2 separate regions of the Homo sapiens genome follow, and region 2 is linked to region 1. Evidence: fine-mapped expression QTL. Tissue or cell type: pancreas. Region 1 holds a variant in brackets; the other region holds the start of a gene. All regions are shown on one strand. Distances are from middle to middle.

Region 1 (5,366 bases):
ATCAGGACAGCTTGCAGGCATTGCTGCAGCTGTGCCAGCCTCTCCATTTCCTGGGCTCCACCGATCCGGCTGCCCTGGATCTGCTGGTCAATGTGCCGGGCGAACTGCTCACTCACCTGAGCAATGGCAGAGCACAGGAAAGCCATGAATGAGCGAGCAGAGCAGGTGAGTGGGGAGGAGGGATGAGGGTCTGGAAAGTAGATATGAATGCTGGCAGCTTTCTAAGGTGGTTGGTGCTTTCATACAACTATTTTATAAGATCATTAACCATTGTACAAATTAGCAATATTAACAATTATGGAAAGTGTCTTTTCACATTGTGTCTAAAAAATCAAACTAATAATAATCATTCAAAATGAGAAAATAAGACCAGGCGCAGTTCACGCCTGTAATTCCAGCACTTTGGGAGGCTGAGACAGGCAGATGGCTTGAACCCAGGAGTTGGAGACCAGCCTGGGCAACATGGCAAAACCCCATCTCTACTAAAAATACGAAAAAATTAGCTGGGCATGGTGGCACACGCCTATGGTCCCAGCTACCCAGAAGGCTGAGAGGACCACCTGAGCCCAAGAGGTTGAGGCCGCAGTGAGCTGTGACTGCACCACTGCATCCCAGTGTGGGAGGGAGTAAGACCCTGTTAAGAAAGAAGTAAAGAAAGAGAAAGAAAGGGAGAGAAAGAAAAAGAAAGGAGAGGAAAAGAGGGGAGGGAAGGGAAGGGAAAGGAAGGGGAAGGGAAGGGAAGGGGAAGGGAAGGGAAAGGGAAGGGAAGGGAGAGGTGGCTCATGCCTGTAATCCCAACACTTTGGGAGGGTGAGGCGGGCGGATCACGAGGTCAGGAGTTCGAGACCAGCCTGACCAATGTGGTGAAACTCCGTCTCTACTAAAAATACAAAAATTGGCTGGGCGTGGTAGCATGCACCTGTAATCCCAGCTACTTGGGAGGTTGAGGCAGGAGAATCGCTTGAACCTGGGAGGCGGAGGTTGTGGTGAGCTGAGATCGAGCCACTGCACTCCAGCCTGGGCAACAGAGCGAGACTCCGTCTCAAAAAAAAAAAAAAAAAAAAGGAAGAAGAAAGAAAGAGAGAAGGAAAGAAAGAGAAAGAGAGAAAGAGAAGGAGGGAGGGAGGGAGAGAAGGAGGGAGGGAAGGAGGGAAGGAGGGAAGGAAGGAAGGAAGGAAGGCAGGAAGGGAGAAAGAGAGAGAGAAAGAAAGACGGACACAAGGAGGTAAGTTACATACACAAAGATGGTCCTGATGCAGTGTCACTGATAAACTAGGACTGGAGGCTACACAAGGAGCCTCATGTTCCTGCTGCTCTGTACCCTGCTTTCCAGGGTGCTTCTTGCATTTTAGCTCATCAATTGTGGGGGGTTTTTTTGTTTTTTTCTTTTTTTTGAGATGAGTCTAGCTCTGTCACGCAGGCTGGAGTGCAGTGGTGCAATCTCGGCTGACTGCAACTGCAACCTCCACTTCCTGGGTTCAAACGATTCTCCTGCCTCAGCCTCCCAAGTAGCTGGGAATACAGGCATGTGCCACCATGCCTGGCTAATTTTTGTATTTTTAGTAGAGATGGGGTTTGGCCATGTTGGCCAGGCTGGCCTCAAACTCCTGCCCTCAGATGATCTGCCTGCCTCGGCCTCCCAAAGTGCTGGGATTACAGGCATGAGCCACCACACCTGGCCACTATTTATTTTTTTCAATTTTTTAAACTTCTTATAACATGGCTATATACTAACATATGTTCATCATAGAATGGGAATGGAAGGGTGGGTCATTTGGAGGAGGTGAGGAAGGGAGAGTTTGTCGGAAGAGACCCAAGGATGAGGCAAGGGTAGAGGCTTACGTGGGCAGCTTTGAGAAAAGGGAGCTTCAGCAAGGCTCCCGCACAGCCATTTTGCAGCGCCAGCAAGAAGGCTGCCCGAGGCCCAAACAGTTCAGAGCTTGAGTTCTGCAGAATATTAAAGTGCTCACAGTAGCGTGGCACAAAGTCATCATCCCGCCAGGATGAGGTCAGAAAATTGTTCACCTGGAAGGAAGGGGCAGGAGCATGAAGACACAACCCAACATGCCACCATTATGGTGTCCCCTCTCTCCCGCAGGCCTGCTCCTGCCCACCTGCTTCTCCACCACGGCCCGCCAACAGCGCGTCAGGTTTCTCATGATGCTGCTTGGAAGGCCCCGGGTAGCCAAGGAGCTCCAGTCGTGGCTTCTGTTTCTGCCTTCTGTAGAGACCAAGAAAGTGGCAGAGGCAAGGAGGGTGCAGCCCCTCCACTCCCAAGTCCCCATCCAAGGGGGTTCCCTGAGGCCTTTCCTGACATGCTGCCACCCAAAATGATGTTCATGGATGGAGGTGACACAAACCTGGAAGATGAACAGGCTGAGCCCATAGGGAGGGGAAGGATGGGGATGGACAGAAGCCTGTGGTGTACACATGGGGCCCAGGAAAACGCTCCTGACTAGAGCTCCCCACCTGAATCTCCACTACTCACTGGGCCGAGGAGTGGCCACCACAGGAGGGGGTGCCTCACAGGGCTCGACATGCACCAGCAGGTGAGTGAGACGGCGCACCCGCGAGAAGAAAGCTGGGCCGCGGCTCTGGGGGTTGAAGACAGCTTCCTGACACTCCAGGTACTGGTCCAGCAGCCAACCCAGGGGGCTAATGCCATCCTCATCTAGAGGGTGAGATAAACAAACCAAGGCACAGCCATGTCTGCAGGGAAGTGGGAGTGGTTGGGCTGAACAGGAGTGTGGAGATAGAGCAACTGGACGGAATGATACAAGGAAGGGGGGCCAGGTAGGGTGGTTTACGCCTGTAATCCCAGCACTTTGGGAGGCTGAGATGAGAGGATCGCTTGAGGCAGGAGTTCAAGACTGGCCTGGTCAACATAGCAGGACCCCATCTTTAAAAATAAGAAATAAGCATAAAAAAATAGAAAAGGCCAGGTGCGGTGGCTCATGCCTGTAATCCCAGCACTTTGGGAGGCTGAGGTGGGTGGATCACCTGAGGTCGGGAGTTCGAGATCAGCCTGACCAACA[C/T]GGAGAAACCCCACCTCTACTAAAAATATAAAATTAGCCAGGTGTGGGTCAGGCGCGGTGGCTCATGCCTGTAATCCCAGCACTTTGGGAGACTGAGGCGGGTGGATCACCTGAGATTGGGAGTTCGAGACCAGCCTGACCAACATGGAGAAACCCCATCTCTACTAAAAATACAAAATTAGCTGGGCATGGTGGCCCATGCCTGTAATCCCAGCTATTTGGGAGGGTGAGGCAGAAGAATCACTTGAACCCTGGAGGCAGAGGTTGCAGTGAGCCGAGACTGCGCCATTGCACTCCAGTCTAGGCAACAAGAGCGAAACTCTGTCTCAAAAAAATAAAATAAAATAAAATAAAATTAGCCAGGCATGGTGGTGCATGCCTGTAATCCCAGCTACTTGGGAGGCTGAGGCAGGAGAATTGCCTGAACCTGGGAGGCAGAGGTTGCAGTGAGCCAAGATCATGCCATTGCACTCCAGCGTGGGTAACGAGCGAAAATCTGTCTCAAAAAAAAAAAAAAGAAGAATGATAAAGGGAGTGGGTAACAAGGCACCTCCAGCACTTATGGTGTCCCCTGACACTTGAGAGACATGGGAAAGGGGGCAGCCCCTGGGCTGTGAGAAGACAGCACTGGGATTACAAATGCAGGTGCCAAAAGGGCCAGGACATAATCCAGGTGGTTCTAGGGTAGAGCAAGAAGGAACTAATTAGTGGAACCAAGCCCTGAGATAGTAATGGGTCCAGATGTCAGGATGGTTACCAGGGGAGGTGATGTTCTGCACCACGGGGCTGACCAGGGCCTCCCAGCAGGTCTTGCCCAGAGCTTGGGCAGCCTCGTCATCAGGGAGGAAGCGGTCAGCAAAATTCTGCTCCTGGCGCAGAGCACCGTTGAGTCTGGGGGTGAGAATGGAGGAGGAAGGTGTCAGGGGCTTGAAGCATATGTTATCTCAGTGTCCACCCTTCCTAAGACTGCCAGCTAACCCCAGCACCCAAACCGAAGGCCCCCTGGTACTTCAGAACTGCTCTGTGCTAACTGGTATATCCCATTCCCAGCCCACTGGAGAAATCTTTTCTCTTTATCCTTTCTTCCCCTCCCACAGCTCAGAAAACTCCAGCCCCCTCCCCACGCATATTAAACCTCCATCTCACAGCTTCTATGGACCCCTGCCTGCCAGCTATTTGCAATAGCCTTACCTTTCCCACAGACACAAGCATACACGCACACTCTCACACACCTAGAACTCAGGTGCAGGAGGCTCCTGCGGTCCTCTGCCATGTCCTGGCTCCAGGCCTGTGCCCGAACCATGTAGAAGAGGCGTGTGTGACGACAGAGCTGCTCCCGGAACACTGGCCAGAACGTGGGCTTGGGGCCTAGGATCTCTAACCCCCGAATGCGCGTATCAATGCCACCCTGAAACACACACAGGACTATCTTCACTCGCTCCACACCTTGGGATGGGCTGGGGTCAGCTACGCCCTCGAACCTCACCCCTGGAGCTGCTCGAGACCCAGGCTGGTCCTCTGGCTTAAGATCTGCCTGTTTATGGGGCTCAGAGCCCCCTACCCAGGGCCACACCCCACATCCCTGGCCCCACCTGCTGGCAGCGCTTTATGCGGATCTGGATGATGGGCCAGAAGCGGGTCAGGTTCTCCAGGAGGATCACCCGGCTGGCAGAGGGCATCACATTCACCTGGCAGGGGGCAGAGAAAGCTGTCACCTCCACACATGCAGAGCCAAGTTGGCTCTAGGCTCCAGTCCCCTCACTGTTTCCCTCCCTTCCCCAGCCCTGGGATGTGTAGGGTCCTGACAAAGCTGTCCTCATGCCACCCTCATTGTTCAGGGCCTGGTGGCACAAGCACAGGGATAAAGGACACTACTTTCTGTGGGGCTCAAGACAGGTGGGAGTTAGAAAAAAGTAGGATAGGGCCAGATAGAAGCAGGAGGGCAGATCCTGTGAGGGGTGGAGTAATGGCTAATGGCCCTGGGGTCCTACCGAGTTGAGTTCCGTGTGAAGAGAGCTAGTGCTATCACCCCCGCACACCACCACTCGGGCCGGCATGTAACTCGAGTCCTCACTAGCCACAAGCAGAGTCAGTTGCCTGGGAGTGGGGAGGAAAAACCATTTGGAACTTGTAGACAGGGCCCATGGCCAAGTCCAGGGGGTGGTGCTTCCCCCAAAACAAACACAGGGGCGTCACAGGAAAGCACACGTGTGTGGCAAAGCACATGTGTGGGAGAGTTACCTGATGAGGATGCCCCGGCGCATGTGCAGGGTGATGTAGTGGGAGCCGGCGCTGCCGTTGGACTCCCAATAGGTCTTGGGGTTGTGGTCC
Region 2 (5,366 bases), 22 kb before region 1:
TGGGTGGTGATATCCAGGACTGGATCCTTTCCTCACCTTTGACCATCTCCTTTCCACAACTTCTCCCTTAAAGGCCCTAGTCTGAAGACTCTGTGCAAACTGGCCGTGATTCAGTATAACCTAGACCAGTCCTGTTTGCCTCATGATATCAGGTACAGCGAGTGGTTGGAAGGGAGGGATTGAGTGAGGGTGAGTGAGCAGCACAGGTGTGACCTGATTAGCTTGGTTTCAGTATGGAGGAGACAGACATTTTTGTTCTGCTGGAGATGTAGTGTACTTGTGGGAAATGAGATGGAAGGAGGTGAATTGACAGCCATCATATAAAACTGTCAGCAGAATAAATTATATGAAAAAAAAATACAGCTCGGCAGCATCACTTTCTGAGACCTAAGCTTATACAGTTATTTTTGTGACCATGCTGAGAACAACTGATTAAATCTTAGAACCTAGCTGCAAAGTAAAGACAAGTTTAGGAGCCTCTGGATCACATTGGTTCCAGAAGATCTGGCTGCTTCCCTTTGAATTTCGTTCTTAGGTTCCAATTAACCACCAGATGTTACTTTATGTATAATTTTTCAGGTTCAAATTAACCACCAGATGTTACTTTGTATATAATTTTTCCTGTCTGGGTCATTCTGAGATACTTCGTCTCTTTGTATCAGTTCAGTTTAACTCTTGCTGGCTGGGCATGGTGGCTCATACCTGTAATCCCATCACTTCGGGAGGTTGAGGTGGGCAAATCAGTTGAGGTCAGGAGTTCGAGACCATCCTGGCCACATGGTGAAGCCCTGTCTATACTAAAAATACAAAAATTAGCTGGGCATAGTGGCAGCCACCAGTAGTCCCAGCTACTTGGGAGGTTGAGGCAAGAGAATTGCTTGAACCCGGGAGGCGGGGGTTTCAGTGAGTCAAGATTGTGCCACTGCACCACTGTACTCCAGCCTAGGTGACAGAACAAGACTCAAAAAAAAAATTAATATGGTTGGGTGGGTGGGGAAGGCCTCAGGAAGGATAGGAGTGCTGAGTCAGAGCCTTAAAAGGATGGGAGTTAAGAGCAAAAATGGGTATTCCTGGTGGGGTGAGGCATTCCTGGTGAGGGTAAGGTGGAGGGGCTGCCTGGTTGGCTCTAAGCAAAGCAGGAAAGGCAGGTTGGGATGTTGACTGACATGTATACACAGATCTCAGGTGCCTGGACACTGCAATATACATACATACATAAACATAAACCGGAAATCCATATGAGCTTGGAGGTAGAGGAGTGGGTGGTGTTGGATTTGGTGGTGGGTGGGTTCTGATTGTTCAACCTAGTAGGTCTCTTAAGTAAGAGGTGGCTGTGGGTGGTTGACCTTTAGGAAGTTGGAGAGACTGGTGTGTTTTTAGCTTGGTTCAAACATCCCTTAGCTTGGGCTGAGGGCCCCCTCTTCTTTCTGTCTCTTATTGTTGGCCTTCCAGGTGGGAGCTGAATGCCATGACCACCAACAGCAATATCAGTCGCCCCATCGTCTCCTCCCATGGGTAGGAGGAAGTTTCTGCCACCTCCCCTCCTGAGCCTGCTGTCATCTTCACTGCCCCTGCCCATCTGTCACCCACCTGCTCCTTTGACCCCTGGACTTGGTATACCTCCATGTGGAGTTGTTGGGCGAGAGGTGTTCTCTGTGCTGTGAATTCAGTGGGGAGCTGTAGCGGGGTGGGGGCTAGGTTCCTCCCCCCTTGGGCCGAGGGCCCCTTCCCCTTGGTGCTCTGTCCCCATCCACCTCCTTTCAGCTGCTCCTGGGCCTCAGCTCTGCCCAGGGCCAGCCAGGTTCTGCTGGGAAGGGAAGGGAATGGGGAGAAGGGAGAAGCAAGCAGTGTCTGAGCCTCAGGAGCTTCCCCCTCCCCCTTTGCCTATCCCCTCCCCTCTGCTTGAGCCTTGAGCCTTGACTGGGAGCTGAAAGGAGTTGCAGCTGTTGGCATGAGACCTCCTTCTCCCCGTCTTGGGGAGGTGGGGACCAGCAGATAAATCCCACCCTTCCTTGAGCTGTCGCTGTACTCTGAAGTTCAGCCAGCTCAGATTTTATAAAAATTAATTAAAATCTCCAAACGTGTTGTGTGTTTTTGTGGAATATGGTGGAGAAGGCTGGAGTTTGCAGTGGGGGCAGGGTGCCGAGGACAAGCACCCTGAGGTTCTGGCTTCTCAGCCAAGGGTATTAGGAAACCAAATGCCACCAAGGCCTGGTCCAAGCTTCTCGGGCGTGGAACCCAGCACCCTGCGACTCGGGCAGAAGGTTGCGACAATGTCTCCAGAGCGGGTTATCCTTTGGGCCCGGCTCCCTGGCCCTCGACCGCGCAGTTTTCTGCCCATTCGTCACCACGTTGAGACCGGGAACGCCGGAAGAGGCGGGGCAGGGGCTGCCGTGAGCGGAAGCGGCGCCATTCGTCTTCCGAGCGCTACTGCCAGCTGATGCCGGGAGCTAACTACCGCGCCGGGGCCGGGGCCGGGGCCGGGGCCCGACGTCCCCGCGGGGCCCGGGACCGCGAGGAGGACGGCGGGGGCCTGGAGCCCGCGGCCGTGGCCCGCGACCTATTGAGGGGTGAGGGCATGGGGCAGGGCGGGCTGGGGAGGGGAAGGAGATTCCCAGGCGGGGCCCTGAGCCTGCAGAGACGGTGCCGGTAAGACTGCCAAGTTCTCTAAGAGGCAGACGCTACACTAGGGGTGCCCCCAGTGCAGTGGAAAGTGGGGGGTGAGAGTAGATGCTTCCGGGATTAGGACATCCTGAGAAGTTTCTTCACGGCAGGATGAGGGTTTTCGGCGATGGGGAACGTATGTGCAATAGCATGGAGGCAGGAAAAGGCATGCATGGCTGCTGAAGGCTTAGTAGATCAGAATTCAGCAGATTCCGTAGACTTTGTTTTTTTAATTTTTTTTTTTTGAGACGGAGTCTCTCTCTGTCGCCAAGGCTGGAGTGCAGTGGCGCGATGTCGGCAAGCTCCGCCTCCCGGGTTCACGCCATTCTGCTGCCTCAGCCTCCAGAGCAGCTGGGACTACAGGCGCCCGCCACCACGCCCGGCTAATTTTTTGTATTTTTAGTAGAGACGGGGTCTCACCTTGTTAGCCAGGATGGTCTCGATCTCCTGACCTCGTGATCCGCCCGCCTCAGCCTCCCAAAGTGCTGGGATTCCAGGCGTGAGCCACTGCGCCCAGCCTGTTTTTTAAATTTTTTATATTTTTTATTTTTTTGAGACAAAGTCTCGCCCTGTAGCCCAGGCTGGAGTGTAGTTGCACCATGACGGCTCACTGCGGCCTCGAACTCCCGGGCCCAAGAGATCCTCCTACCTCAGCCTTTCGAGTAGCTGGGACTGCAGGCGCGTCACCACGCCTGCACGGATGGGTTTGTTTATTTATTTATTTATTTATTTAATGTAGAAACAAGGTCTCACCTTTTTTTTTTTTTTTTTTTTGACGGCGTCTCGCTCTGTTGCCCATGCTGGAGTGCAGTAGCGCGATCTCAGCTCACTGCAAGCTCCGCCTCCCGTGTTTACGCCATTCTCCTGCCTCAGCCTCCCGAGTAGTGGGACTACAGGCGCCCGCCACCACGCCCGGCTAATTTTTTGTATTTTTAGTAGAGATGGGGTTTCACCGTGTTAGCCAGGATGGTCTCTATCTCCTGACCTCGTGATCCGCCCGCCTCGGCCTCCCAAAGTGCTGGGATTACAGGCGTGAGCCACCTCGCCCAGCCAGGTCTCATCATGTTACCAGGTGCCAGGGCTGGTCTCCAGTTCCTGGGCTCAAGTGATCCACCCGCCTCAGCCTCCCAAGGATTACAGGATTACTGTGCCCAGCAAATGCTGCAGGCTTTTTGTTAAGGCACAGTTCTAGCTGCTGGAGATAGTTGTGAATAAAGTAGTCAAACACTCCTATCCTGGCCGGGTGTGGTGGATCACACCTGTAATCCCAGCACCAGGGGAGACTGAAGCAGGAGGATCGCTTGAGCCCAGGAGTTCAAGACCAGCCTGGTAAACATAATGAGACCCGCTTTTCTACTAAAAATAAAAAAATTTAGCCAGGGTGGTGGCCCACGTCTGTATTCCCAGCCACTGAGGAGGCTGAGGCATGAGGATAGTTTGAGCCCAGGAGGTCGAGGCTGCAGTGAGCAGTGATTAGGCCACTGCACTCCAGCCTGGGCAACAGAGCAAGACCTTTTTTCAAAATAAATAAAATTTAAGTCCAGGTGTGGCTCATGCCTGTAATCCCAGCACTTTGGGAGGCCGAGGTGGGCGGATCACAAGGTCAGGAGATCAAGACCATCTGGGCCAACATGGTGAAACTCGTCCTTATTAAAAATACAATAATCAGCTGGACTTGGTGGTGCGTGCCTTAGTCCCAGCTACTGAGGAGGCTGAGGCAGGAGAATCGCTTGAACCTGGGAGGCGGAGGTTGCAGTGAGCCGAGATCGCGCCACTGCACTCCAGCCTCGTGACAGAGTGAGTCCAGCTCAAAATAAATAAGTAAAATTTAAGGGAGACAAGTAAATTATTACATTAAAAGGCAATAAAACACTGAATTGTAGACTAGAGAACTGGATTTTGTGGAATATGAATTATAGCTCAATTTTTTTTAAGGTGATAGAGGATATGGAGAAAAAATAAAGCTTAGGAGAGGTTGCATTTTTTTTTTTTTTCCGAGATGGAGTCTCGCTCTGTCACCCAGGCTGGAGTGCAGTGACGTGATCTCGGCTCACTGCATCCTCTGCCTCCCAGGTTCAAGCTCTTCTCCCGCCTCAGCCTCCCGAGTAGCTGGGATTACAGGCACCTGCCATCATGCCCAGCTAATTTTTGTATTTTTGTAGAGACGGTTTCACCATGTTGACCGGGCTGGTCTTAAACTCCTGACCTCAGGTGATTGATCTGCCTCAGCCTCCCAAAGTGCTGGGATTACAGGCGTGAGCCACCACACCTGGACGAGGGGTCGCAATTTTAAATAACTTAGAGAAGACCTCTTTGGGAAGGTGATTTTGAATAAAGGCTTGAAGGAACTGAGGGAGGAGCTGTACCTATGTACAGTTTCTGGGGGAAGTGTACCAAGCAGAGGCAACATGTGCAGAGGAACTGAGGTGGGAATATGCTGCTAGGAGACACATTGAGAGGAGTGAGAAGGAGATGAGTAGAGTAGAGATATGACAGGGGCCAGGTCACTTGGGGGCTTGCAGGCCATTATTAAGGTACATGGCTTTTACTGTGAGCAAGATGGAAGCCATTGGGGACTTTTGCCTGTAGGAGTAACATGATCTGAAGTTTATGTGTGGGAGTGATAAGATCTGATTTTATTTTCGATGCCTCTCTCAGGCTGAATTGAGGCGCATAGCTTTGAGAGGAGTGAGGCTGGTGGT

What was found. PIP is the estimated chance that this variant, and not a neighbour inherited with it, causes the effect. A credible set is the group of variants that fine-mapping cannot tell apart.
Region 2: it holds the start of RRP36, and the variant in region 1 is the best candidate, but not a certain one, in a credible set for the expression of RRP36 in pancreas (GTEx, PIP 0.65).

What each region holds. Positions count from the first base shown.
Region 1 is chr6:43,040,960-43,046,325 of GRCh38, forward strand. CUL7 (cullin 7) reads right to left here. Exons shown (of 26, transcript NM_014780.5): 12 at 5,277-5,366; 13 at 5,027-5,132; 14 at 4,628-4,723; 15 at 4,268-4,443; 16 at 3,793-3,926; 17 at 2,489-2,671; 18 at 2,115-2,221; 19 at 1,843-2,025; 20 at 1-116. It overlaps LOC124901318 (a long non-coding RNA gene), which reads left to right and starts at 77. Exons shown (of 2, transcript XR_007059581.1): 1 at 77-165; 2 at 2,099-4,187. RefSeq lists a silencer at 4,862-5,053. The variant C/T (reference allele first, on the strand shown) is at 3,036.
Region 2 is chr6:43,019,215-43,024,580 of GRCh38, forward strand. RRP36 (ribosomal RNA processing 36) reads left to right here and starts at 2,409. Exons shown (of 7, transcript NM_033112.4): 1 at 2,409-2,570. The coding sequence starts at 2,441. KLHDC3 (kelch domain containing 3) reads left to right here. Exons shown (of 11, transcript NM_057161.4): 10 at 74-152; 11 at 1,453-2,080. The coding sequence ends at 1,519. RefSeq lists enhancers at 1,961-2,692, 2,091-2,200, 2,261-2,310, 2,693-3,424 and silencers at 2,401-2,470, 2,481-2,530, 2,541-2,610.